Linked DNA regions of Homo sapiens: regions 1, 2 and 3 are each linked to region 4. The links come from fine-mapping of genetic effects on gene expression. A gene starts in region 4. Each other region holds a variant in brackets. All regions are shown on one strand. Distances are from middle to middle. Region 1 has its middle 16 kb from the start of CEP170B. Region 2 overlaps AKT1 (AKT serine/threonine kinase 1). Region 3 has its middle 5.9 kb from the start of VESTAR. Region 4 holds the start of AKT1 (AKT serine/threonine kinase 1).

Region 1 (5,223 bases), 54 kb after region 4:
AGGCTCTGTCTCTTAAAAAAAAAAAAAGAAAGAAAGAAAGAAAGAGAGAGAGAGAGAGAAAAAGAAAAACCAGGGCCAGAAGCGGGGGCTCACACCTGTAATCTTAGCATTTTGGGAGGATCACTTGAGGTCAGGAGTTCAAGACCAGCCTGGCCAACATGGCAAAACCCCATCTCTAATAAAAATACAAAAATTAGCCAGGTGTGGTGGTGGGTGCCTGTAATTACAGCTACTCAGGAGGCTGAGGCACGAGAATCTCTTGAACTCAGGAGATGGAGGTTGCAGTGAGCTGAGATCTCACCCCACTGCACTCCAGCCTGGGTGACAGAACGAGACTCTGTTTCAAAAAAAAAGAGGGCCAGGCGCGGTGGCTCACGCCTGTAATCCCAGCCCTTTGGGAGGCCGAGGTGGGCAGATCACGAGATCAGGAGATCGAGACCATCCTGGCTAATGCGGTGAAACCCCGTCTCTACTAAAAATACAAAAAATTACCTGGACATGGTGGCGGGCGCCTGTAGTCCCAGCTACTGGGGAGGCTGAGGTAGGAGAATGGCGTGAACCCGGGAGGCGGAGCTTGCAGGGAGCCGAGATGGTGCCACTGCACTCCAGCCTGGGTGACAGAGCAAGACTCCGGCTCAAAAACAACAACAACAACAACAACAACTTGTGGTTTAAATATATTGTATCTCTACCGGTATTTTGTCCATTTAGTCTATCAGTTACCGAGAGAGATGTTTTAAAATTTCCCACAGTAGTTGTGGATTTGCTGCTACTTTTTTAGTTCTATCAGATTTTGTTTTCTATGTTTCAGCGCTGTGTTATTAGGTGTCTACAGATTTATGATTGTTAGATCTTCCTATTCAATTGACCCTTTTATAATTGTGAAATGGTTTTATCGTCACTGCAACCTCCGCCTCCCGGGTTCAAGTGATTCTCCTGCCTCAGCCGCCCGAGTAGCTGGGACTACAGGTGCCCGCCACCACACCCAGCTAATGTTTTGTATTTTTAGTAGAGACGGGGTTTCAACACGTTGGCCAGGATGGTCTCAATCTCTTGACCTCATGATCTGCCTGCCACGGCCTCCCAAAGTGTTGGGATTAGAGGCACAAGCCACCACGCCCGGCCAATATTACTAAATATCAAGTCAATGTTCACTTTTCCAATTGTTTTGTAAACGTTTGTTTGAATTGGAACCCAGTTTTGCCACTTTGTGACTGGTTGATAAGTCAGGTCTTCTTAATCCACACTTTTCTTATTCGTCCTTTCTTCCCCTCTAGCAAAGGAAACCAGGCTGTTCCCCTGTAGCTCACCAGCCTGGATTTTGCCAGCTGTGCCCCCTGCTACTGTTTAACATGCATCTGTGCCTCTGCATTCCCTGTAAGCTGGTAGTTTGTATTGAGGAGTTGGACTCCATTTCTTAACTTCTGGCTACTGACAGCTTCCTTTTTTTTTTTTTTTTTTTTTGAGACGGAGTCTCGCTCTGTCTGTCGCCCAGGCTGGAGTGCAGTGGCTCCATCTCGGCTCACTGCAAGCTCCGCCTCCCGGGTTCACGCCATTCTTCTGCCTCAGCCTCCTGAGTAGCTGGGACTACAAGCACCCACCACCACGCCTGGCTAATTTTTTTGTATTTTTAGTAGAGATGGGGTTTCACCGTGTTAGCCAAGATGGTCTTGATCTCCTCACCTTGTGATCCGCCCGCCTCGGCCTCCCAAAGTGCTGGGATTACAGGTGTGAGCCACCACACCCGGCCTAAAAATCCAAGTTTTAGGCACCAGCTACTAGTGCAGTAGCCACGTGTGGTTAGAGCCTCCAGTTCTTTACAGTCTCATTGTGTGGCCCAGGCTGGAGTGCAGTGGCACAGTCATACATAGTTCACTGCAGCCTTGAACTGCCTGGCTCAAGGGATCCCCCGACTCAGCCTCCAGAGTAGCTGGGACTACAGCTGCACACCACCACATCCCACTAATTTTATTATTTTCTGTAGAGATGAGGTCTCACAGCCAGGTATGGTGGCTCATGCCTGTAATCCTAGCACTTTGGGAGGCCAAGGCAGTTGGATCATTTGAGGTCAGGAGTTGATTGTGCCACTGCACTCCAGCCTGGGTGACAGAGTGAGATCCTGTCTCAAAAAAAAAAAAAAGAAAAAAAAAAGATTAAAAATGAGATGAGGTCTCGGGGTCTCAC[T/G]ATGTCTCCCAGGCTTGTCTCAAGCTCCTAGACTCAAGCGATCCTCCCACCTCGGCCTCCCTAAGTACTGAGATTACAGGCATGAGCCACTGTGCCTGGCCCGTGTGTGAGAAATTGAGTAGGGGTGGGAAGGTTTATTTGGTTTCTAGCTTGCTGGAGTGTCACATTCCAAGGACCTTACCTGAAAGGCTGAGTGTTTTTACAGGGTCCCTTCTCCTTGATGCCTGGACTCCAATTCCTTTCTCCATAACACCATCAGACAGCTAAAGCTTTAATTTCATGGGCTTTCAGCTGCCATTTTCTGCTTGACTTTGTAACCTCCTACCCAAAACAGCTTAGAGATTGGCAAATATCTTAATGGGAAAAGAGGCACAGAAGATTGAATGGTAGCTTCCAATGCCAATATTTGCCTCCCCAGGCCTGTGAGAATCCCAGAAGCTCTGAGCTGCCACTTTCTGCTTGGTCTCTAAGTACCTGCCAGGCTCATCTCAATGTGATTCCCTTTTCTCAGGTTCTCAGTCCCTCAAGTCCTGGCTGCCTTGGTTGCTCTCCAATGCCTTCAAACAGCTGTTATGTTGTTGCTGTTGTTTTGAGACAGAGTCTTGCTCTGTCGCCCAGGCTGGAATGCAATGGCTCGATCTCGGCTCAATGCAAGCTCCACCTCCTGGGTTCACACCGTTTTCCCGCCTCAGCCTCCCAAGTACCTGGGAGTACAGGCACCTGCCACCACGCCTGGCTAATTTTTTGTATTTTTAGTAGAGACGGGGTTCCACCATGTTGGTCATGCTGGTCTTGAACTCCTGACCTCGTGATCCACCCGCCTCAGCCTCCCAAAGTGCTGGGATTACAGGCGTGAGCCACCGTGCCCGGCCTGTTGTTGTTTTTAAACTAGTTTTTAGAGTTGCTTTTGGTGTCTGATACTTGTTATTTACCACAGCCACAAGTAGGTGTTTTTGCTTTGTGGGAAGCTTTATTTTTGAGAGCATAGAGGTTCCTGATTACTATAAAGAATTAAATGGGGCCGGGCGCGGTGGCTCACGCCTGTGCTCCGAGCACTTTGGGAGGCCGAGGCAGGCAGATCACCTGAGGTCAGGAGTTCGAGACCAGCCTGACCAACACGGAGAAACCCCGTCTCTACTAAAAATACAAAATTAGCCAGGTGTTGTGGTGCATGCCCGTAATCCCAGCTACTTGGGAAGCTGAGGCAGGAGAATCGCTTGGACCTGGGAGGTGGAGGTTACAGTGAGCCAAGATCACGCCATTGTACTCCAGCCTAGGCAACAAGAAAGAAACTCCGTTTCAAAAAAAAAAAAAAAAGAATTAAATGGCCTAATAAATGATAATGAGTACTTATAGATTTGCCTGGTAGACAGGAAGAATGATCTACTGGATGATTTGATTGATATAAGAAATTATTAAAATTAGGGCCAGGCATGGTGGCTCACACCTGTAATTTCAGCACTTTGTGGGCTAAGGCAGGAGGATCTATTGAGGTCAGGAGTTCAAGACCAGCCTGGGTAACATAGCAAGACCTCATCTCTACAAAAAAACTTTAAAATTAGCCAGGCACAGGCCAGGTGTGGTGGCTCACACCTGTAATCCCAGCACTTTGGGAGGCAGAGGCAGGTGGATCACCTGAGGTCAGGAGTTGGAGACCAGCCTGGCCAACTTGAAAACCCCATCTCTACTAAATATACAAAATTAGCCGGGCGTGGTGGTGCACGCCTGTAATCTCAGCTACTCGGGAGGCTGAGGCAGGAGAATCACTTGAACCTGGGAGGCGGAAGTTGCAGTGAACCAAGATCATGCCATTGCACTCCTGCCTGGACAACAAGAATGAAACTCCATCTCAAAAAAAAAAAAAAAAAAGTACAAAGACTGCATGTGCATGAGTGAAAAAACACAAGGGGAAATGTAGTGATATGAAAGGAATATAAAATCTGACACATGAAACAAATAGTTCTATCTGTGTTGTTTTGGATAAAATGAAAAGGCATTTCGCTTACTAAAAAGGTGATATTTCAATATTCTAAGAAGACTTTGATTAGGAATATAGCAGAAGACTTTTCTGCAACTATCCATCAAAAGATCAGATTCTGGCCAGGCGCGGTGGCTGGCACCTGTAATCCTAGCACTTTGGGAGGCTGAGGCGGGTGGATTGCCTGAGCTCAGGAGTTTGAGACCAGTCTGGGCAACACAGTGAAACCTTGTTTCTACTAAAGATGCAAAAAATTAGCCAGGCGTGGTGGTGGGCACCTGTAGTCCCAGGTACTCAGGAGGCTGAGGCAGGAGAATCGCTTGAACCTGGGAGGCGAAGGTTGCAGTGAGCCAAGATCACGCCACTGCACTCCAGCCTGGGTGACAGAGCAAGACTCTGTCTCAAAAAAAAAAAAAAAAAAAAAAAGATCAGATTTCATCTCCCTGAATATAGAAGGGATGTTATCTTACCAGCCCTGGCAGGCCACTACGCATATGTGCATACGTTACCATGTCTGTGAGGCATTGCAAGGAATACATTTTTTTAGCCACTCAACACCTGTAGATGTCACCGTCTCGGCAGCCAACAGGAAGACCCCATCTCCAGCCGCTGTTTTCCACTATGACCCTCAGCGAGTGTTTTCCACATTTAACCACGTGGGACCCACGGCTCTGGGGATGGCTTTGTGCCATCTTGTGTTTCTTCAGACCCTGCCTGAGTTTCAGGAGAATTTGCGTGACCATGGGAAAGGCTACTGGGCTGTCCAAATGCTACCGTCTCTCAGGCACCTGACCTCGGGCATCTGCTCCCTTCTGCCGCTTCCTGAGGGAACTCTCGGAAACCCCGCAGCAGGCCTCACTCAGGAGAGGCTGAGGGAAGAGATGGGCAGTGCCACCAGAGGCCCCTCTGAGAGGCGTTTCAACAGCTTCACCTGTGCTGACAAAGCAGCCGTGGTCAGCACCGCCGTTAAGGCGGCCATCAGTGGCGGCTGGCATGCAGCGTGTACACGAATTAACACATCAAACAGAAAAACTGCCAAAAGCAGTAAAGCGAATAAGGAT
Region 2 (5,115 bases), 23 kb before region 4:
ACACTGCAGGCCTCTCTGAGTGTGGAGAGAAAAGGGAGTGGGCGGGGGCAGGCAGTGGCCCCTCACCTTGGTCAGGTGGTGTGATGGTGATCATCTGGGCCGTGAACTCCTCATCAAAATACCTGGTGTCAGTCTCCGACGTGACCTGGGGCTTGAAGGGTGGGCTGAGCTGCAGAGGTGGGCAGACGGGACAGTCATGAGCTTCGCTCCCCACTCCCAGCACACCCTCAAGTGTGCTCAAGACCTTCAAAGCACCTGGATCTCCAAGGGGTCTCCAGGCAGGACTGATGTCAGAGAGCAGCAAGCCACCAGCCCCCCACAGAGGCAGCTCTGGGAGGGAGGGACATGAGGGGTGCAGGAGCACGGAGACAACCCTCAACAGCTGAGACGCAAAGCTGCCCTCACAGCAGCCCCAGCAGGCGACAGGAGGTAGTGCAGCCCAGCTCTGAGAGACCCTCCCTGCTACCAGGAGGTGATAACTTTATTTTTCCTTTTTCTTTCTTGTTTTCTTATTTTTCTTATTGGTCTTCTTGTAAATTGGGAAAGAGGGAGACTGTGGAACAAGGTGCACAGGATGAGCCCACCCTGCCTCCATGGCTCAGGGACTACAGGACCACAGCCTGCTGGCATCTGGCTGCAGACAGGACTCTCAATGACCCAGGATGAAGGGTGACTATAAGGTGATGTGCACACGTGAGGAGCTGCCAGAGAGCCCCTCAGGTCCCACAGTCAAGGACCCCCTCAAGCACTGCCCCACCCCAGAGTCTGGGCTGGGCACCAGCATTGTCCATTGTCAATTAGCAAGGTCTCTGGTCAAGGCTGGGCAGAGGTTGAGCACTGCCCAGGCCCCCCATACCCTTGGAGGGCAGGGCAGGAGGGTGGCAGGCCTCAAGGCAGGAACGGGGACCAGGACCAGGGCACCCTGTGTTAATGGGAGAACAGGTGCCCAGCTGGGTCCCAGGGCTGCCCAGCCCGACCAGCTGCACACAGCCTAGGACAGGCATTCAGGGGAGGGGCAGGCTGGGAACGGGGCAGAAGCACACCTGGTGACAGGGCACCCAGCATCTCAGAGTGCAGGCTTCCGAACCCAGCTGGCAGACCCCATCAGCTGGGGTGATGGCCAGGGCTCCTAGGGTCCCTGAAAGATGAGCACCCAGGATGGCGACTCATGCAGAAAGAGCTGCCTCCCTCCAGGGCGGACTCCCCCATGTGCCAGAAAAGTAGGTGCTGTCCCTGTCCCTGCACAGCCAGAAATAGGGCTGGGCTCTCCTTGCGGCAGAAGGGATTGAGGTCAAACAGGAGGAACTCGTGGAGGCCAAGGGGCAGCACCCCTGGTCCACCACCAGCCAGCCTTCACTGCACAGCGTCAGGGAAGGGAACCCCAAGGCTGGCACTCAGAGTGTGACACACCTCCGAGGGGAGGAGGAAACTCAGAGTGTGACACACCTCCGAGGGGAGGAGGAAATGAGGACCAGGCCAGTTTCCTGGTGGAACCCGGCAGTGCCAGAGCCTCTGAGCACCAGGCGCTGAGGTTGGTGCAGCAAGGCCCTCCTTGTACCAGGACTGCAGCAGGCTCCTGAGGTGAGGGCGAGTGTGTGGGAAATCTGGCGAGCGTGCCACGTGCATGCGTGAGTGTGGATATGTGGGGAGCATGCGTGCGCGTGAATATGCGGGGAGCAGCCGCACCTTCTTCTCGTACACGTGCTGCCACACGATACCGGCAAAGAAGCGATGCTGCATGATCTCCTTGGCGTCCTCGGAGCCCCCGCCAAGCCTGCAGGCAGGAAACAAGGCCACAGTGTCGGTACCGCCACCTGCCCAGGCCCTGGGTTCAGGCCCCTTCCTCCTGTGATGTAGGGCCCGCCAGACAGGACGTTCCGGGGCCAGGGAGGGGAGCCGGTGGTGCAGCGTCCCTGAGCAGCTGTGGGTAGCAAAGCACCACAGAGCTCACGGCAGGGCAGGGGCTTCCTGAGTGGGTGGGTGCAGGCTGCAGGGTTGGGGACAGAGGCCCAACTGACCCCGGCCTGCCCGCCACTCTGCTTGGGCCTGAGGCTTTGGAGATCAGCCCTGGCCAAGGACATCAAGCTTTGGCTATCAGTGTAGTCTGGGAGGTGCCAGGACCGCCTGGCGCAGGGGCAGGTGCAGCCTGGGGATGAGGGGATGGAGGTGTAGCCTGTAGCTGGGATGGGCGGCCCTCACCTCTGCTTGGGGTCCTTCTTGAGCAGCCCTGAAAGCAAGGACTTGGCCTCGGGACCAAGCGTGCGCGGGAAGCGGATCTCCTCCATGAGGATGAGCTCAAAAAGCTTCTCATGGTCCTGGTTGTAGAAGGGCAGGCGACCGCACATCATCTCGTACATGACCACGCCCAGCCCCCACCAGTCCACTGCACGGCCGTAGTCATTGTCCTCCAGCACCTGCACGGGTGGCAGATGGGCAGGACTCGGCATCAAGGGGTGTCCGGGACACTGCCGGGGGAGGTGTGACGTGCTTGGGGCACAGAGAGGACACAGCATTGCGTGTGCTCAGGACGTGGGGACGCAGCAACGCGTATGCACGCAGGTGGGGCGCACACCTCGGGGGCCAGGTACTCAGGTGTGCCGCAAAAGGTCTTCATGGTGGCACCGTCCTTGATCCCCTCCTTGCACAGCCCGAAGTCTGTGATCTTAATGTGCCCGTCCTTGTCCAGCATGAGGTTCTCCAGCTAGGGGAAAGGTGGCCTCAGGTCAGTGCCGCCAGGCCCCCAGGGCCCTGCCCCCCTGCCTGCCCGCCAGCGCACCTTGAGGTCCCGGTACACCACGTTCTTCTCCGAGTGCAGGTAGTCCAGGGCTGACACAATCTCAGCGCCATAGAAGCGGGCCCGGTCCTCGGAGAACACACG[C/T]TCCCGGGACAGGTGGAAGAACAGCTGCGGGAGGCGCAACCTGAGGCACAGCCGTGGCTCGGGCCTCTGCCCCCATGGCCTGCAGGGCTGGGGTTTCTCAGACCGGGTCTCGGCATTGCACAGGGAAGGGACCAGCCACCAGAGGGCACGGGGGCCTGGAAAGTCTCAGAAGCCCTAACTCAGCAGGAACAAGTCACCCCACAGCAGGCAGCTGCCTGGGCAGGCATCACACCACCCACCCAGCAGGGAGCACCGTCTGGTGCCATGGAGAGTAGCCGAGGCTCCGGGAAGGACCGGCCCCACCATGGGCGGCCCACAGGCCGCGAAGTCCATCCCCCGCAGCCCCAGCCCCTACCTCGCCCCCGTTGGCGTACTCCATGACAAAGCAGAGGCGGTCGTGGGTCTGGAAAGAGTACTTCAGGGCCTGCAAGGAAGGGGAGCTGGAACTGCGGCCCCACAGGCAGGACGGCAGCCCCGCACCACGCTGCCCGACACCACGCTGCTTGATACCACGTCGCCTGATACCACACCGCCCGTAGCCCCACACCACACTGCCCGACACCACGCTGCCTGATACCACACCGCCCGATACCACACTGCCCCACACCACACACCCCATCACACTGCCCCACACCATACACCCCCACATCACACTGCCCCCATGCCACGCTGCCCCACACCACACTGCCCCACACCACACTGCCTCATGCCACGCCACCATCAGGCTGGGCCCCGGCAGCCCCTGAGGTGCCAAGGAGTGTTTGAAAGGTGAGCAAGGTGGCCTGGGCTCAGGTCCTCCAGGGTGAGTTGGGACCTCAGCAGGGGACAGTGCTCCCAGCACCAGGGCCTTCGCAAAGGGAGGACACACCCTCCCAGGCGAGACCCACCCTCCCGCCTTCCACCACAGGCGACTGTGCTTTTAAAGCAAAGGCCCCATCTGCAGGAGAATCGTCCCCAAACACAGTGACCTGGAACTAACCAAGTGGCTGGACCCTGGCCCCCTTCACAGTAAATACCTCCTGGGCCAAGTCCCCAGAACAGGTTCTGCAGGACAGAGCCCGGGCCTCAACAAAAGCCTGGCAGGCAGGGCTGCAGGGCATGGGGAGCTGGGGCCTCCTGGAGCCTCGGCAGAGTGCAAGGAAGACCAGGGCCACCTGCCCCACCCACCTGCCCGCACACGGGAGCAGCGAGCACAGCCCCTAGCCCACACTGGGCACCTCCACAGCCTGACCCTCCAGGGCAGGCCTGTCTCACCAGCGGCGGAGTCCACGGTGTGTAAAGCCCTCACGTGCCCAAGAAGACAGGACATCGTCCCCTAGAGACAGCCCCAGGAGTCGCTACCTGGCCCCAGCCCTTCAGCCCCATCTGGGCTCCCACTCACTGTGAGGAAGGGGTGCCTGGAGTTCTGCAGGACGCGGTTCTCGGTGAGTGTGTGGGCCACCTCGTCCTGTAAAGCAGGGCTGGGTGAGCTGCCACCCCGCACCCTCATCTCCACCCTGCCCCACCGCCCCGGCCCCACCTTGGCCACGATGACTTCCTTCTTGAGGATCTTCATGGCGTAGTAGCGGCCTGTGGCCTTCTCCTTCACCAGGATCACCTTGCCGAAAGTGCCCTTGCCCAGCAGCTTCAGGTACTCAAACTCGTTCATGGTCTATGGGCAGGCACCAGGGTCAGCAAGCGGCGCTGCCAACAGTGCCCAGCTGGTCGGCATGCGTGGGGTGGCATGAGGGGCCCCAGAGTCGGAGGCAGAGCCAGGAGAGGCGTCCACTTCACACCTGGTGGCCTACTGGGCTCAGCGGGGAGTCCAGGCTTACAGGGAACACATGGCTGCGGCCCCAGCTCAGAGCATGGGGTTCAGGGAAGGGTGGGGTAACATTGCCCAAGCCTGGCAGGGCTCAGCAACCCCAGTTTTCCTCTGACATGGGGAAGAGGACCCACCTGGGAAGCAGCTGCGCCCTACATGGAAAACCGGCCTAGGTGGAGATGCCGTGGAGTGCTGAGTGTCTCCTGGGCCGAGCTGGGACCCCATGACCCACCCAGCCCTCCACAGTCCAAGGCAGCCCCAGGCACAGGCAGAAGTGGGGACAGGCCTCACCACGCGGTGCTTGGGCTTGGCCAGGGACACCTCCATCTCTTCAGCCCCTGAGTTGTCACTGGGTGAGCCCGACCGGAAGTCCATCTCCTCCTCCTCCTGCTTCTTGAGGCCGTCAGCCACAGTCTGGATGGCGGTTGTCCAC
Region 3 (5,223 bases), 31 kb after region 4:
GGATGGATGAACAGTGGGGTGGTAGATGGGTAGATAAATGGTTGGATGGACAGTAGGATGGTGGGTGGTTGGATGGATGGATTGATGGATGGATGGATGGATGGAGGGTTAGATGAATGCATATTGGCTGGATGATAGAATGGTGGATGGATAGATGGGTGGTAGGATGGTAGATGTTTAGGTAAATGGTTAGATGGGTAGTAGAATGGTGAATGGTTGGATGGATAGATTAATGGATGGATGGTAAGATGGTGGATGGTTGGATGAATGTTTGGATGGATCGTAGGCTGGTGGATGGTTGCATGGTTGGGTGGGTGGATGTATGGTTGGATGGTGAATGGTTGGATGAATTGATGGATGGATGGTAGGATAGGTGAATGGTTGGATGGATAGGGATGATTGGATGGATGGATTGATGGTGGACTGATGGATGGATAGATGGTTGGTAGATGATAGGTTGGATGGACAGTTGAATGGTTGGATGGATTGATGGATGGTTGGTTGGGTGGATGGATGGATGGTTGGACAGATGGTTGAATAGATGGTATGATGGGGTTAAGGACAGATGCATAGGTGGTGGAAAGATGGATGTTTAAAGATGGTTGGCTAGGAAGATAATTGGATGGATGGAGGATCCCCCAGGGTTGCTACCTGAGCAAACTCTGGGAGGTTTGGAAATCTTGATCACAGGGGTCTGTGGGCCTGTCCTGTGGATGAGAAGTCAAGACTGGAGAGGCTTTGACCTGGGCTGGTTTTAGGGATAGGGGCCACTGTGAGGACAGAGATGCAGAGGCACAGACAAGGAACTGGGTGGAGGTGCACTCTGCAGGATTTCTGGTGTCTGATGGAGATGGTTATTTGTGGACTCCAGATGATTCTAGAAGTCCCCAAGACTCTTCTGGGTGGGATTCATGAAGGCAGGTGGCAGGTTCCCCAGCTTAAAAGCCAATAGAAAAGTAAAGAATCGGGCCGGGCACGGTGGCTCACGCCTGTAATCCCAGCACTTTGGGAGGCCAAGGCGGGCAGATTACGAGGTCAGGAGATAGAGACCGTCCTGGCTATCACGGTGAAACCCCATCTCTACTAAAAATACAAAAAAATTAGCCAGGCGTGGTGGTGGGTGCTTGTAGTCCCAGCTACTCAGGAGGCTGAGGCAGGAGAATGGCGGGACCCGGGAGGCGGAGCTTGCAGTGAGCCGAGATGGTGCCACTGCACTCCAGCCTGGGCGACAGAGTCAGACTCCGTCTCTTAAGGAAAGAAAAGAATCGGAATGACAGATACCGGCAGTCTGAGGATTGGCGGAGATGGCCTCGCTGACTGGGAATATTTGAGCAGAGGCAGGAAATGGCTGGGGCGGAGGGACTGGCAGGAGCAGAAGCCTGATGTGGGGCTTGGGGCGTGCTGGGGCGTAGCGAAGTGGCAGGAGATCCCGGAGCACCGGCAGGGAGGGGAGCCAGAGGGAGAGGAAGGTGTGGAGGCCTTATGGAGCTCTCCTGGGGTCTTGGATGTTCACTCCGAGTGCGATGGGAGCTGCAGGAAGGTTTGATCCCCGGAGAGACCAGATCGGGCTTGAGCTCTGACCGCAACCCCTGGCGCTGGTTGGAGGGCACACGGGCAAGGCGGTGGTGGGAGCGCTGCGGCAGTGCAAGACCACAGAGCAGGGGGATATGCGGGGGGTGGGCTGGGAGGGCTAGGTGGGGCGTCTGACGAGGCTGGGGAACTCCTGTTCTTAAGCTCAGGCCGGGGTGAGCACTGTCCCTAGGAGGGTGTGGCCAATCCTCGCCCTCAAGGCACTGCGGCATGAATGAAGCGCTTTAAAGGGAGTTCCCAAAATGAAATCCCTAAGCGAAAGGTCTGGTCCTTCTGGGAAGCGGAGCAGACTGCGACAGCTGGCGTTGGAGCGGGGGGCGGTCCCAAGTCATCCTCAGGCCACCCGTGGCCAGCCCCAAGCTCTCTGCGGCGAGGAGCGCTAGCCCCAGAGCCTGGCGTCCTGCTGGGGAGGCGCCTTTCCCGCGGCGCTGGGCGCCCTGGGCATCCGGGAGGAGCACCCGTCCCGCCCTCTCCCCGCGCCCGGCTCCGCACTCCCCGCCAGCCCTGCGCCCCGCTCCCCGCGCGCCCCCTGGCGGCAAACTTCGCAATGGCTCCCGCCGCGCTCTGCTTTTCGGGGTTGCCGGAGGGGCGGGGCTGCCGGAGGGGCGGGGCTGCCGGAGGGGGCGGGGCTGCCGGAGGGGGCGGGGCTGCCGGAGGGGCGGGGCTCGAGTGGGAATGCAACCCTTGGACACGGTGGATCCTGGGAATCTAACCTTCCGTCCCGGGGCTGATGAGCTCCAGCCCTGCCCCAGGAACTGTGCTGGGGGCCCCTGGGGATGGGGACGCAAGCTCAGAGGGCGGAGACCTCGGGCGCCCCGGCTTCGTCCGCAAGGCGAGACGGGCCGCAGGGGACTGCTAGGGTCTGCAGGGGGGTCTGCGGGGGTGAGGGGGCGGGTGGGCTCGGAGGATGGCCCCGGGCTCCCAGGGAAGCTGGAAGGGCGTCGGGGGAGGTGACGGCGCGGAGACCTCGGACTCTCAGTCCTGCAGGGGCCGCGGACACAGGTGGGGAGGAGTGGGGGAGTTTTTCCCTGGGAGAAATGGGAAGCGTCGAAGGATTTTAAGGAGTGCGGCTGGTCGGGTTTGCATTCGGGGAGGTCGCTTTGTCTCTTGAGTGGAGAATGAGGAGGTGGCAACAGCAGGGGAGTCACCGGGAGGCTGCTCGGGTCCAGCTCAAAAACGCCAGGCCCGCCCCCGCCCCGCAGGTCCGCGGGAAGGAAGGAAAAGGCGTTGGGGATGCGTAGGAGGCAGAGGCCTTGGTGGTCGATCCGGTGTGGAGTGGGGCAGGGGCTGCGAGGAGGGCGCCCAGGACTGGTATCAGTGAACAGTGACGGTGGGGCAGGGCGGTGACCTTAGCACCAGCGCTTCGGTGGGGGGGAGGAAGCACCTGAGCCGCGGAGAAAGGCCTGCGTGAGGTGGGCACAGGCTGGCGTTGAAGCCCTGGGGTGGACTCACGTCCAGGGGAGGGCGGTGCTTCACACGTCCCAGGCACTGTCTTGTGTGGCCCCAAGTGCTGTCTGAATCTCTCCTGCGTCTTGGGCC[C/G]CAGCACCAACAGCCGTCGCCCTGGAGCCAGGCAGCAGCCTTAAGCTTCCCTGGGAGGCTGACTGGCTGGGAGCAGGGAGGTCCCATCGGGGAAGTAGGGGCGTGCAGGGGGCTTGGCGCCTGCAGTCCTGGAGGGGCAGGGCAGATGATAAGGCTAAGTACCTCCTGTCCTTTGCTCAGCCAGCCACTAGGAGGAGGCCGCAGAGAAGAAGCCGCCAGGGGCTGGGGGAGGCCAGGGACGGGGCAGGGAGGAGGGGCTGGGCTGAATGCAGGTGCCCCAGGAGCTGCGGGCTCTCCTTCCACAGGTTCGTGTCTGGTACACGGCTGGAGAAGGCAGGGAGGGTGGGAGGAGCCTGGCTTGGAGAGAAAGGGCTGGCCGGAGACACCAGAGTGCTCAGGGCAGGGGCGGGAGAGGTGGTCCCTCAGGCCTCAGTGGCAGAGGCATGGGGATCCAGGGCTGAGAGTGAGTCTGTGGTTCATGGGGTTACCAGAAAGGGGTCCTGATCCAGATCCCAAGAGAGGGTTCTTAGATCTCACGCAAGAAAGAATTCAGGGCGAGTCCACAAAGTAAAGCGAAAGCAAATTTATTAAGAAATTAGAGGAATAAAAGAATGGCCACTCCATAGAGCGGGCCAGAGGGCTGCTGGGTGACCATTTTTATGGTTTTATTTTTATTATATGATAAACAAAGGGTGTATTATTCATGACTCTCCTTTTTAGACCATAAGGGGTAACTTCCTGATGTTGCCATGGCATTTGTAAACTCTCATGGTGCTGGTGGGAGTGTAGCAGTGAGGACGACCAGTGGTCACTCTTTTTTTTTTTTTTTTTGAGACAGAGTCTCGCTGTGTCGCCCAGGCTGGAGTGCAGTGACACGATCTTGGCTCACTGCAGGCTCCGTCTCCCGGGTTCACACCTTTCTCCTGCCTCAGCCTCACGCCTGTAATCCCAGCACTTTGGGAGGCCAAGGCAGGCGGATCACGAGGTCAGGAGATTGTGACCATCCTGGCTAACACGTGAAACCCCGTCTCTACTAAAAATTCAAAAAATTAGCCAGGCGTGGTAGCGGGTGCCTGTGGTCCCAGCTACTCGGGAGGCTGAGGCAGGAGAATGGCATGACCCTGGGAGGCAGAGCTTGCAGTGAGCTGAGATCGCGCCACTGCACTCCAGCCTGGGCGACAGAGGGAGACTCCATCTCAAAAAAAAAAAAAAAATTTTAAAAGACCAGGTGCAGTGGCTCACGCCTGTAGTCCCAGCACTTTGGGAGGCCATGGTGAGTGGATTGCTTGAGCCCAGGAGGCAGAGGTTGCAGTGAGCTGAGATGGGGCCACTGCACTCCAGCCTGGGTGACAAAACAAGACCCTGTCTCAAAAAATAAAATATTTAAGCTTATTTTGTGTGTGCTATGGTTTGAATGTTTGTGTCCATCCAAAATTCATATATTGGAACTTAAGTTGCAAAGTGATGGTATTAAGAGGTAGGGCCTTTGGGAGGTGACCAGGGCAGGGCGGACGGGATTAGTGCTCTTACACAAGGGCTTGAGGCAGCGGGTTCTTTTCTTTAGGCCTTTTGGCCCCTTCCTCTATGTGAGGGCACAGCAAGAGGGTGTAATCCCTCCCAGACACCACATCTGCTGGCCTTGACCTAGGACTTCCCCGCCCCTAAAACTGTGAGGAATACATTTTTAGTATTTATAAATTACTCAGTCTGTGGTATTTTATTTATTTATTTGAGATGGAGACCAGCCTGGGCAACATAGTGACACCTCATTTCTTTAAAAACAACAACAAAAAAATTAAGGGAAAATCAGCCAGGCATGGTGGCATGGGCCTGTAGTCCCAGCCACTGGGGAGGCTACAGTGGGAGGATCCCTTGGGTTGGGCCTGGGAGTCCGGGCCATGATGATATCACTGCACTCTAGCCTGGGTGACACAGCAAGACCTTGTCTCAATTAAAAAAAAAGAAAAGAAAAGAAAAGAAAGGCATAGATCTTTACTGCAAGACGCCCACAGAATGCTGTCTACATGCCATGCCTCTAATTCCTCTTCTTTCATTCTCTTTTTAAAAACTTTTAAGATTGAGATATAATTCACA
Region 4 (5,000 bases):
TGGACAGGCCCCCGCCCTGCAGCGGCCCACCAGCCAACCCTCACCTGAGCACACTTTATCCATTGATCCTGCATGGCTTCCTCATTTCCCCTCTGATGGATGAACTCCTAGGCATCCCTCAAAACCCAGTTCCCACATCACCAACTACAGGCATCCCCAGAAAGAGCACTTCGCATGCTCTTCCTGTGAGCAGTCCTCTGCTACCCTTCCAGATGGGCCTTCCTGAGGGGAGGAGGGTCCTCTCTGGGACCTCCAGGCCAGGCAGAGACCCCTGACGACCTCTGTGGAATGGATCCCAACATGGGTCTTTCCACAGCCAGCTTAGACGCTCTCCCCCCAGGCCACCTTTCTGGCCTCCCGAGGCAAGGGCTGGACACCCACAAAGGGTTGCTTTGCACTGATTGTCTTAAGCTACACTTAGAATGGCAGGAAGGCCCACTGCCTTGTGTCTAATGCCAGGACAGGGAAGACCACACCTTACCCAAAGAGGGAAATGCCCCAAGTACTTAGCAGGATGGAAAGCAGGCCAGACTCGAGGAAGGCACCGCAGGACTCCGAGGGCAGGGCTCCGAGCCGCGCACGCCTCAGGCACAGGGGGCTCTGACGACACTGAGTGGGCGTGGCCTGGAGGCAGAGGGCTGGACTCAAAGACCTCTGGATGTCCCCCCACCCCCACACGGGCCTGAGCCCCTCCAAGGCCTGCTGCTGACAGAGTCAGACAGCTGTCCAGAGCCATGTGTAAAAATACATCTGTGCTCACACAGGGTGGTGTACGTCTGCACAGAAACGTATACACCAGGCCAGCACAGGGCTGCCTGTGGGGGCGGAGGGACCCCGACTTCCCACAGCCTCCGTACCTGCCGCCTGCCTTTACCATAAGCACATATTCTTGCTACTATTATTAAGTCACAACTTAAAAAAAAATACTCTGTTTTCGAAAGGGCTCCTCCATCTGCCTCCAGAACCCTGGTGTATGAGAAGTCTACACAGCTCCCGGGAGAGGCAACCGGACCCCCACCAACGGACTCCGTCCGCCCTTCGCTCGGATGAGGGACTCAAAGCAGTCAAGAAGTGGCCACCTGGAGCAAGGCCGAGAGACCCAGGAGTGAATGTGGGGCGGCCTCTGGCTGCAGAGCAGGGGCCCAAGCTCACCCGCTGACCAAGGCAGCACTCAGAGGCCGTCCCGACAGGACCAAGCTCGCTAGCGCCCCAGGATACTCAATCTAAGGGGCAAGCCCCAGCTGCCCTCCAAGCCTTGGCCTCTGGGATGGGCGGGCAGGACCTCCAGGGCCCACCCAAGACAGGAAGCAGTTCCGGGGCCCAGGAGGGTCACAGTCCTTTGTGGCTAGCCTGGGTACCCCGCCACCACGTACAACTTTTCGTCCGTGGGAAACGAAGTCTCCTTCCGGGGCCCTCCCACAAACTTGAAGGCCGGCCGCGGCGAGTCTTTCTCCAACCCCGGGGCACCTCCGCCGGCTGCCTCGCTGGCCCAGCGCCCGGGGAGCCCCACGGCCCGCAGGGGCACCCCGAGCCCCAGCTCCAGGCCCGGCGGCGTCCCTTCTCTCGGGTCCCGGCCTCGCCCGGCGGAGCGGCCTCCCCAAGGTCATGAGGGAGGCTGGGGCCGGCAGCCTGCACCCCCGGCGCCCGGCGTGGGGCCGCCCTCCCTTGGCCGGGCCCGCGCGCCCCGCGCCCTCCCCGCCCAGGCCCGCTCGGCCACTTCCTGCTCCCGCTCCTCCATTCTGGCGGCGCCGCGGCTCGCGCCCCGGCCCGACCGGCCGCGAACAAAGCGGCCCGGCCCGCGGGGAGGAAATCCAGGCCCGGGCGGCCACGGCGGGCGGGGACTCACCGGGCCGCCGCGTCCGGGCGCGAGCGCGGGCCTAGCCGGGCCGCGGCCTCCGGCGCCCGCCGCTCCGCATCCCCGCGGGCCGGCGCTGGGCGGGGCCGGGCTGGAGGCCGCGGCGGGCGGGGGCGCTGCTCGGGGCCGGGCCTCGCGTGCCGCCGCCGCTCGGTGCCCGGTGCCCAGCGCTCGGTGCTCGGCCGCCTGCTCCCGTCTTCGGGCCGCGCTGCGTGCGCTGGGCCAGCCGCCTGCCGCGCTCGGTCCTGCCGCCGCCGCCGGCCCGCCCTCTCCCCGCCCCGCGCCCGCCCCGCGCCCGGAGCCGCCCGCCCACATCCGCCTCCGCCGCCCGGGGCGTCCCCACCGCGCGGCCGGCGGCGAGGGCGGAGCGCGCTCGGGGAGCGCGCGGCCGGGCTGAGGGGCAGCTCCCGACGACCTGGGGCCTGGGCTGGGCCGCTAACGGAGCCCGGCCACCAGCCAGCCCGTCCCGGGGCCACGCCCTCTCTGGCCTCAGTTTCCCCGTCTGTAAAGTGACCCGGCGCTTCTGGGCTCGCTCTGCCGTGACCCTAGCAGAAGGGGCCCGAGACAGGTCAGGGACGAATCCCGGACTTCTGCCTCCGCGCGCGGGGCGGGGGTGGCTTAGGTTGACTTTCAGGCTGCCCCACTCTGGGGGGCGTGGAGGGGGCGGCCAAGAGTGACCTAAAAGGCCCAATCCCAAGACCTTGTGCCTCTGGGGGAAGTGCGGGAGGATGCCAGGACAGGAGGTCAGTTGGAGGTGGGCCTCCAAGGAGCAGGAAGGCTCCGAGGGGAGTCAACCATTCACCTAGGTACTGGCAGCTACACTCACAAAAGGGGGACTTTGCTGGGGAGTGGGAGAAGAGGGGCACACCTTGCCTGGCTCCCACCTTGAGCTGGGAGCAGACACCAGACAGAGGAGGAGCGGTGTCTAGGGTGGGCTGTGACAGCTGACAGCCCAGAGCCCTCCCTGCTGGGTGGACTTGGTCAGCCCGGACACCCAGTCCGAAGTCCACTGGGAGGCAGATGGCCCGGGTATGGAATGAGTAAGTGGGACACAGACCCCTTTCTCCTGGACACTCACAGGAGAGTGCAGGTGACTGCCACCCCGACCCCTTCCTAGCCAGAAGTTCCTCCGACAACTGCCCCTCCCCCATTCCAGAGGCCCACAGTTGATAATAACCCTTTTGTGAAAGACAGACTCTTGTGAGTTACCTTCCTGAGGCTGCTAAGTATTGGGGTTGGGGGAGCATTTTTATTTTCAGCCAGAGTGAGTTCAGCTGGCAGCAGGGGAGGGGGTGGGAGGAGATGCAGACAGAGGCAGCAGGTTCGGCCCAGTGCTCAGGACAGAGTCTGCAGCCAAAACTCGGGCTTCATCCCTGCCTCTTGGGGCTGACCAAGAGAAGGACTCTCTCCCCCTGCATGAGGGCACTCGCTCCTCAGACAGGGGACTCCCCATTCCTGCCTCTCGCCTGAGCACCTCTGCTCCCTCCCAGCTCAGACTTTGTAACCCCAGGAAGGGCCCACCTCCAGGGGGCCAAGTCAGAGGCCCAGTGGTCTGCGCCGCTTGGGTGGGATACCTGACACAAGGGTTGCCCCCAGAGCCTGGGCGTCTGGTGTCTGTCTCTCACCCAGCAAACCTGCACCATGAGCCACCTGGGGCTCCCTCTGGGACTGTCCCACCTGCCCACTGCTCCCCGAGGAAGAGTTCCTGGTATCTGTCCACCATCCTGGGCTCTGCCATGCAAGGATGGAGGAAGGAATTCAGGGAGGAAGCAGAGGGTAAGAGGGCCATGAGACAAGGCCAGCAAGTGGCCGAGGCTTGGGGATGTGGGAGGGAGCAGGGCACCCTCTCATGGAAGAGGCAGTGACATTGCGGGCTGTTCTTGAAGTGGTTGGACCTCTTGCTTATTTTGCACTGGCTGTCTCCAAGGAGGCCTCCCAGTCTTCCCAGCCTGGTGCCCTGGCATCTGCTGGTGCCTGCAACCCACTGTGGGCCCCACACTCCAGTCCTGTCTTCACCTTGGCATGAACTGCCCTCCCCCAAGACGGGGATCTCCCAGTGGGCAGGGCCATCTCCCTCTCCTCCAGCGTCCCAGAGGGAAAGCAGAGTCCTCTCTTCAAGAACACCCCCTCCCACCCCAGACAGAATGGTCAGGAGAGAACCCAGCCCCACGGCTGCTGCTGGGACTGCTGAGGTGCTCTGTGGCCAGATGTTTCCGACAAAAACTGCTGCACCAGGGAAGGGCCCGACGGCTGCCTCCTCCCAGAGCTCAGGGGCCTCCTGCCCTGTCACCTTCTGCAGCTGCTGGCCGGGGGCAGGACTCGAGGGCCCTGGGCTGTGTAGGTCCCAGCAGCAGCTGCAGGGCGGGGCCTCAGGGCAGCTCCCAGGCCAGATGGCCGCCTGAGTCTGCAGAGGTTCTGCCTGAACCACCACCGCCGCGACAGTGGCTGTGTGACGGTGTCCTGTCATTCCTGCACTTGAGACCCAGCCAGTCACAGGGGCTCTGAGGACTACAGGCTGGCCAGGATCCCAGCACCAACTCTGGGCGGTCTCTGCCTGGAACAGCCCCCCTTCCCTGATCGGTGTGGGGCAGGAGGGACTTGAACCCAGACATCCCGACCTGAGAGGGATAAGGAGCTTCTCTCCCACTGTCCCCTCCCCTTCATCTAGCCCATTCCTAGCTGGGCCCTCCTTCCAGGTCCTACCCTAGGCTCCTGAAGGCAGCATCCTGACCCTCCCTGTGTACCACAACCCCCATTAAGTGTCCAGGCTCTCTCTGTCCCGCCAGCCAGGCAGGGCAGGCTAGGGTGCTTGCTCCCAGCCTGCAGTGGGGAGCTGTCAGCCTGTTGCCCAGAGCCCCAGTGTGGCAGGCCACCCCTACTTGCTCTGAAGGTTCAGGGGCTGGGGGTGTGGGCAGGCAGGGCTGGAATGTTGCCACAGAGGAGTCAGGATTAGGGATGGTGGGACCATCGTAATCACTCACAGAAGCAACCGTCACACATTCACTCAACAAACATTTACTGAACACCCACTTGCGTCCTGCCAACTTTTAAGCACCAAGTGACCAAACAGCCCCTTCCCTTTCAGAAGGTGCTGGAATATCCCACAATCACAGGACACCCGGAATGGGCTGGAAAGGAGGGTATG

What was found.
Region 1: its variant is fine-mapped to the expression of AKT1 in whole blood (INTERVAL, PIP above 0.99).
Region 2: its variant is fine-mapped to the expression of AKT1 in whole blood (TOPMed, PIP above 0.99). The same link has a PIP of 0.9 or more in blood mononuclear cells, cerebellar hemisphere, cerebellum, lung, testis and thyroid.
Region 3: its variant is fine-mapped to the expression of AKT1 in whole blood (TOPMed, PIP above 0.99).

Annotation. Positions count from the first base shown.
Region 1 is chr14:104,847,046-104,852,268 of GRCh38, forward strand. No RefSeq gene overlaps it. Among named protein-coding and RNA genes, the nearest start is that of CEP170B, 16 kb to the right of the region's middle. The variant T/G (reference allele first, on the strand shown) is at 2,185.
Region 2 is chr14:104,770,679-104,775,793 of GRCh38, forward strand. AKT1 (AKT serine/threonine kinase 1) reads right to left here. Exons shown (of 15, transcript NM_001382430.1): 6 at 4,974-5,115; 7 at 4,398-4,529; 8 at 4,260-4,325; 9 at 3,234-3,302; 10 at 2,777-2,902; 11 at 2,573-2,701; 12 at 2,200-2,414; 13 at 1,687-1,774; 14 at 67-169. Among named protein-coding and RNA genes, the nearest start is that of SIVA1, 20 kb to the left of the region's middle. The variant C/T (reference allele first, on the strand shown) is at 2,879.
Region 3 is chr14:104,824,474-104,829,696 of GRCh38, forward strand. No RefSeq gene overlaps it. Among named protein-coding and RNA genes, the nearest start is that of VESTAR, 5.9 kb to the left of the region's middle. RefSeq lists a silencer at 2,074-2,243 and enhancers at 2,393-3,178, 3,179-3,964. The variant C/G (reference allele first, on the strand shown) is at 3,130.
Region 4 is chr14:104,793,638-104,798,637 of GRCh38, forward strand. AKT1 (AKT serine/threonine kinase 1) reads right to left here and starts at 2,111. Exons shown (of 15, transcript NM_001382430.1): 1 at 1,847-2,111. RefSeq lists enhancers at 1-576, 577-1,218, 3,260-4,032, 4,033-4,805 and silencers at 1,483-1,802, 1,833-1,882, 2,063-2,422.